Linked DNA regions of Homo sapiens. The protein of the gene in region 2 purifies or fractionates together with the protein of the main gene of each other region. This does not show direct contact. Each region holds a gene or a part of one and is shown on either strand. Other genes may lie near its edges.

What was found. Proteins that work in one complex are often made in the same cells at the same time.
Region 1: the proteins of CCDC77 (region 2) and CCDC13 purify together in Homo sapiens (co-immunoprecipitation; one study listed by IntAct). This does not show direct contact.

The regions. Positions count from the first base shown.
Region 1 is NC_000003.12:42,742,113-42,745,765, reverse strand, and holds part of CCDC13 (coiled-coil domain-containing protein 13), read left to right. Parts: intron 1-607; exon of another isoform or gene 608-823; intron 824-2,699; exon of another isoform or gene 2,700-2,708; coding exon 2,709-2,870; intron 2,871-3,653. UniProt on the Homo sapiens protein: Required for primary cilia formation and promotes the localization of the ciliopathy protein BBS4 to both centriolar satellites and cilia.
Region 2 is NC_000012.12:439,544-443,195, reverse strand, and holds the end of CCDC77 (coiled-coil domain-containing protein 77), read right to left. Parts: intron 2,580-3,652; coding exon 2,454-2,579; intron 2,353-2,453; coding exon 2,200-2,352; intron 1,423-2,199; coding exon 1,276-1,422; 3' UTR 554-1,275; downstream 1-553.

The DNA.
Region 1 (3,653 bases), on a different chromosome or scaffold from region 2:
GCCAACCAGCCTGATTTTAATTTGTTATTTAATGAACAAGCTCTTATATAACACTTAGCACATGCCAGGCACTGGAGCTTAACAAATGCCAACGCCTTTGGTTTGATTTATTTTACTCCAGGCATCTTTTTTTTTTCTTAGTTTATGTAGATTTGCGTGACTGTTGTAATTGTAAGCTTTTTCCAGTTTTGTCCAGATGCTTGTAGTCTTTTGAAAGTTTAATTACCCAATAAAAATTTAGCCTTGTCTCCCTCTTTATTGTCTGAATATTTTGGAGCATACCAAAAGCAGCTAACAGCAGGGGCTCTGGAGCCACACTGCTCAGATTCAAATCCCAGCTCTCCACTCACCAGCTGTGTGACCTTAAGCAAGTTCCTTTAGCTCTGTGCCTCAGTTTCCTCATCTGTATAATGGGGATAATAACGATGCCTACCCCACAGGATTGTTGGGAGAATTGAGTCAATACTTGTAAAATGCTCAGCACAGGGCCTGGCATGGAGGAAGCACTGTATAAAAGTTAGGTGTGGTTCTTTTCCCTTTGTCCCTTCAAACTGAGAAACATGTGAGAAGGTGTATGACTTCCACCATTTGCCAAGCATATCACCCTTGTTCCCAGGGACTTCGAGGGTCACAGTGGCTTTTATCTTCAGTGTCTCCCATGGGATCCTTGAAGCCAATATAAAGGGGGAAAAACTCCAAGAAGCTAATAGATGATAGTGCATGGCCTTGGGGTTCAAGAGACCTGAGTTTACGTTTGGCCACCGGTCTGCCAACTCTGACCTTGGGCAAACCCCTTCATCTTCCTATGTCTTCATCTTCACACCTGTGAAATGGGGTAACATAAAATAACATTTGTAAAGCACCTAGGACAGTGCCTGACCATAATAAGCACAAAACAACTTACTTCTTATTGTCATTAAGTTACATGTCAAATTCTTTTTTTTTTTTTTTTTTTTTTTTTGAGACGGAGTCTCGCTCTATCACCCAGGCTGGAGTGCAGTGGTGCGATCTCGGCTCACTGCAAGCTCCGCCTCCCGGGTTCACGCCATTCTCCTGCCTCAGCCTCCTGAGTAGCTGAGACTACATTTGCCCGCCACCACGCCCGGCTAATTTTTTGTATTTTTAGTAGAGACGAGGTTTCACTGTGTTAGCCAGGATGGTCTCGATCTCCTGACCTCGTGATCCGCCCACCTCGGCTTGCCAAAGTGCTGGGATTACAGGCATGAGCCACCACGCCCGGCCCTGTATGTCAAATTCTTAAAGGTAACAGTATTCTTTAATGATTAAATGGAATTGCCTCACAGCGCCACACGAGGGCACTGGTGGGTGCCTTCAAAGCTGTGCTCCTGCCCTTTGCCAGGGAGCCTAGCGAATTGTGCTTCCTTTCCTGGCTCAAGTTTACCAACATTGTTTTGTCATTTGGTTGTGTTGATAGGGAAACCAGGGTCAGAAGGACCCTAGGAGTTGTCTGCTTCTACCCTAGCGTTATAAGGGTGATAAGGGCATTGTTCTGTGGGATGACATCTACCTGCCACTTGCTGAAGGCCCACATGTGCCAGGCTGTGTTGACAGCTTCACCTAGACCATCTTGGGATTTTGCAAAGTTACCTAATCCTAAAAATAACCTGTAGCATTTAAAATGCAGATTCCATGTCCCTTCCGCTAGAACTGTAGTTTGTTGATCTGGAGTAAGCACCAAGATTTCAGTCCAAGAAGAACCTCAGAGGATTCCCAGGCTCAGACAACTTCACAATACTGAATCCTCATAACAGTGTTACGCAGGGCAGTGTTACTCTTAGGCCCATCTTACAGATGAGGGAACTGAGATTCAGAGAGTTACCTGTGCGCAGTCACACAATCTGTGAGGCTTTGAGGCAGTCTGTTTCCAAACCCTGCCTTCCCCTCTTCAGTATCTCCTGTAAGTGACTGCCATCTTCCGAGAAGCCCACCCAGTCTTAGGTGGTCTGTCTGTTAGAAAGTTCCTCCTTGCCCAGCACTTTGGGAGGCTGAGGTGGGCAGATCTCTCGAGCCCAGGAGTTCAAGTTCAAGACCAGCCTGGGCAACATGGTGAAACCCCGTCTCTACCAAATTTTATATATATATATATTTATATTTATATATTTATGTGTGTGTGTGTATATGTGTATATATATATGTGTGTGTGTATATATATATATAAAATTATCCAGGCACAGTTGCCTGTGCCTGTGGTCCCAGCTGCTTAGGAGGCTGAGCTGGGAGGATTGCTTGAGCCCGGGAGGCAGAGGTTACAGTGAGCCATGATTGCACCACTGCACTCCAGTCGGGGCAACAGAGCAAGACCCTGTCTCTAAAATAAATAAATAAATAAATAAATAAATAAATAAATAAATAAATAAATATTCTTTCTTGAACTGAGACCTGCCATCCTATCCATCCCTGGTTCCTGGGGCCATAGGTCTGCTTTCCAGCCTCAAACAGCCCCTCAGAGATAGGGTGATTTTTCTCATTCACCATTTTTCTAAGCTGAACTTTCCTGGTGTCTTCCAATGTGTTGCTCAAGATGCCAGCTCAGATTGTCCCCCACCCCTAGTCCTCCTCAGATGGGGCTACCACAGCCATCTAGAGAGGTGGTTCCATCTTCAGTCTGTGGGGTCTCCTATCACACTTCTGAGTAGAAGAGGCTGGCAGAAGACCCATTGTGGAACGACGAGTTTTACCATCCTCAGGTTCAAGAGCTTGAGAAGCAATTGGGCCAGGCCCGGAGCCAGTCTGCGGGAACAGCCAGTGATGAGTTGTCTGTCTATCCAGACCCAAGGAAGCTGTCGGCACAGGAGAAAAACCTGCTGAGGATCCGCAGCCTGGAAAGGGAAAAACAGGAAGGCTTGGAGGTAACGCGTGCCTGAGGAGGTCAGCTGGGCATGTGGGAACGAGAGATCATGATGGTGCCTGCAAGGGCTCTGAGGCACATGTGGTCAGAAGTCTGAGCCACCCCTTCTAGGCAGGAGACACCTGGGGACCTGGGTCACCTCTGCATGTTCCTCATGTCCTGTCAAACCAACTTGAGCTGCCTGACTGGGACCTCACTGTGAGCCCATTTAATGAACTTTTCGTGGCCCCATCCTGGCTGTTTTGGAGGTGCTATACCTGAAATTCTCATTGTAAAAGGGAGAGGGGGAGGGTCATGGCCCCAGAAGTATGATAGGGTTAGATGGGGCTTAAAGGGGGAAAGTTCCAGGCTGATGAAAGAGGTAGGCAGGCTGGACTCAACACCAGGGGCCGCATCTCACTGGCTGCGTTGGGAGTGTCAGAACTCTAACTCTACCAGGTTTAAGCAACAAAGGGAAGTCATTGGCCCATGTAAACGAACAATCCAGAGGTGGCCTAGCTTCAGGTGCAGATCGGGGCCTTGCTCTCAGCACCTTCTCCTGGGTTGGCTTCACTCTCTTCCACAAGGACCCTGGGTAGTCCCAGCTTCTCTCCTCCAATGCAGCCTCTACAGACAAAGGGTTTCTCTTTCCCAATAGTTCCAACAAAGTCCCAGAATTGAGTGTCTTTGGTCTAGCCTGGGTTATGTGACCATCCTTGAGCCCATCACTGTAGCCAAGAGTACAGGGTGTTTTGATTGGTCAAGCTTCAGACACCTGCCCCAAGGTTTGAGGGGATGAGTTAGC
Region 2 (3,652 bases):
GTCCCAAATGCAATTTGCCTAAAAACGGATGAAGTTTTAGTGTCATCCCCTTCGTACTAGCTTTGTTATCTCCAACACTAGATGATTTCAAAGGAGTAATTTAAAAAAACTTGTGGGCTGGGTGTGGTGGCTCACACCTGTTATCCCAGCACTCTGGGAGGCCGAGGCGGGTGGATCACCTGAGGTCAGGAGTTCAAGACCAGCCTGGCCAACATGGTGAAACCCTGACTCTACTAAAATAAAATAAAATAAAATAAATACAAAAATTAGCCGAGCATGGTGGTGAGCGCCTGTAATTACAGCTACTTGGGAGGCTGAGGCAGGAGAATCACTTCAACCCGGGAGGCGGAGGCTGCAGTGGACCGAGATCACGCCACTGCACTCCAGCCTGGGTGACGAGAGTGAAACTGTCTCAAAAACCCCCCAAAAAACCTTGTACACTTGCACAAAACTGCAGAGGCCATGGGACAAGAACGTAAACTGAGCTGCGTGAGTCATTAACGAAGCATAAATATAGTATTGAGAAGAAGTTACAGAAAACTCAAAGAAAATCTTTTGAGTGAAATATTTTATTGAAAATAGTTAATTTAAAATATATACATCATTTTTCAAAAGCCATGTGACTGATAAAAATATCAAACTTTCCATACAAGCATCATCTCAGCTTCATCCCCTCGGCAAAGTGTCTCCCGAATCTTTCCAGATGGACATTTCGTTTGAGTCTCTAGCGCCCTCTGGTGAAACACCATGAAATTGCCCAAAAACGTAATTCAGGCTCTGCTCAGGACGGAAGGTGAAATAGCAGAATGAGCGCCTATTTCAATGTGACAGGTTGTGATGTGCTGCCTTCTCCCCGAGCTCAGGAGAAAGGCAGCCTCTGTGAGTGCTTCTCTCTCTTTAGGGAAAGTATTCTTCCCATGGACACTCAGCCAAGCTTATTGCAAAATACCTTCTTCCTAAGTTTTCATCATCACTGCCTTCTGAAAAAACAAAAACCGGTCAATACAGACAGGATAAATAATGAAAGCCTCCAAGTCATTCAGGACCAGGCCCCTACTCCTCGCAAGTGTTAAAAGGACAGCAAAAATGATAAAGCAAGCTGAGTATGCAAGAAAAGCTTTCCTAGTGGTCCCCGATTCTTCAAGCTGTCTTTACAATAATGAATACCACCACTCTAGTCAACTCAGGTTTACATTTTCTGGCAGCAGATGACCTTGTCCTCAGGTTTCAAGAAGCACACCTCTTCTAAATGGGGGCCATTTCCAAAAGTAGACATTAACAGAGTCTAAGTTCATTCTCCAGACCAAACACTTTCGACTTAAGATTCTTCAGTTCTCCTTGTATCTTATGTGCCCGTCTATTGCTGTCACGGACCTCACACAGAAGGGCAAGATCCTGGTTTGCCCGGGCATTAACTGTTGCCTAGGGGTTTGAAAAAAAAAAAAAAAAAGAAATGATGATGGCATATGCCAGGGGAGCGATATCAGTCAAAAAGACACAGCTATGCTAGCTCCTTTTTGTGAGATTTTGAGTACATAGGATAAATTCCATCCTTTGTTCAGTGGCTAACTAAAGAAGGAAAATGTAGAATTAAGGCAGAAATCTCATGAAAATCCTTCCCATGCAATAAAGGAGGCTTGAGGTAGAGATCAATGCACCATGAAAGAGGAGTAAGAGAGGCCAGGATAAGCGACACTACTGGTAAGTTTGTCACAGAATGAAAGCGCAACACTACTGGTAAGTTTGTCACAGAATGAAAGCAGGCGTCTCCTCTTTTCTGCAACTAACCTTGTCTGGAACACAGGCTAACTGGCTAAATCTCATTAAGAAGACTCTTGAGGCGACTTGTATTCTAAAGAACTGTGTCTGCTGGAAAAAAGTACTCTATCACTCAATTACTCACCCTCCCCAACTGTAAGACAGACACGATTCTTTAATCTACTTCTTGAATTAGGAGGGATGACAATCTGTTTAGCTTACATCGAAGTATGAATGATGCAGTCGTTCAATGATTTCAGGGTCTTTTTATTTTCCCTCTAGCATGTTCTTGAACTAATTTTCAGGGAGGCTTGAAGATGGTGATCTGTTAGTGTTTACCAGCAGGGAAACAGCACATCCTTCTTTTCAGGGGCCCTCGTGACCATGTTCCCTCACTTACACCTCTTCTCTCCCTCGTGGCAATTCAGGACCAGCAATTACCTTATACAACATTTGCTCCAAGTCTTTCAGTTTCTGTCGGAGAACTTTAATATCTGTCTTAAAGCCTTCTACTTCCAGGATACGTCGACGCTCCAATGCCTCATAGCGTTTTGTCATTATCTGTAAACGCTTCCCCATCTTGTTAGTGCGATCCTAAATATGGGGAATGGGAAGGCATTTACGAAGGTGAGGGAAGCGTCTTCCCCAGCCATCTGCACTTCCTATTCCATTACAAGTGGCAGATAATTTCGTACCTTGAAGATCTCTCTCCTCATTCCCTCTTCCTCACGAATTCGGGCAAGTTCTTCTTCTAAGGAAATGCACTGCTCTTGGTACATATTGGACAGCTTTTTCTCTTGTACTAACTTATCTTTTAGGGACTACAAGTCAAAGGGACAAAAAACATTAACACTCAGTTCTACAATTCAGGTAATTCAAGTAGCTTTTAGGCAAAGAAAGAAAGAAAAGAAGGGATTTCCAGAGGTACAAAATGAGTTAAGGAACCAGATGACAAGGAACTTTGAGGAACATCTGAAAATCTACTTCTAGACCAGTCTCTTAAGCCCTTTTTCTAAAGTGTACACAGTAAAAATTAAAACAAATATTTTTGGCTCTGGGAAGACTCAGATAACGGAGCTCAGAAGCTGTCCCAAGGAAGACATTACAATATATGTTTTGGGCTACATTTCTAAAGTTCTTCTTTAAAAAGGAAGAAATATTAACAACAACGCTTATTATACATGCCCTATTGAGCAGTTAAAATGATCTTTTAAAAACCCAAATCAGATCATGTTACTTATTTCACACAACCCTTCAAATACATAACACTATTGAGAGCTAAGTTCACACTCCATACGATGATGCACAAGGCCCTCCACAACTGGCTGCTGCCAATGCTGGCTTCTTAAAGAGCATACCACTTCCTCCTTATTTATTCCTCTACAACCATGATGACAGCCTTCCATTTCCTTGAACATACTCCAGGGCCTATAAACTTGCTCTTCCCTCTGCCAGGAATGTTCTTCCTCAAGGTCTGTATGGCAAGCTTAGTCCCATTTTTCAGGTCTCAGCAGAAACACTAGATATAAGAGAGTGTCCCTGTGCATTCCTTCTATTAATACAATGGACTTCCAGCAACTACATATAATTTTCATGTAATTCTTTTATTCCCTTAATACCGCATTTTATAATCTATAATTTTTTCTTTTTTTTTTTCTGAGACGGAGTCCTTGCTCTGTCACTGGGCTGGAGTGCAGTGGCGCGATCTCGGCTCACTGCAACCTCTGCCTCCCAGGTTCAAGCAATTCTCCTGCCTCAGCCTCTCAAGTAGCTGGGATTACAGGTGTCCGCCACCACGCCTGGCTATTTTTTTATATTTTTGGTAGAGACAGGGTTCCGCTGTGCTGGCAAGGCTGCTCTCGAACTCCTGACCTCGTGATCCACCCACCTCTGC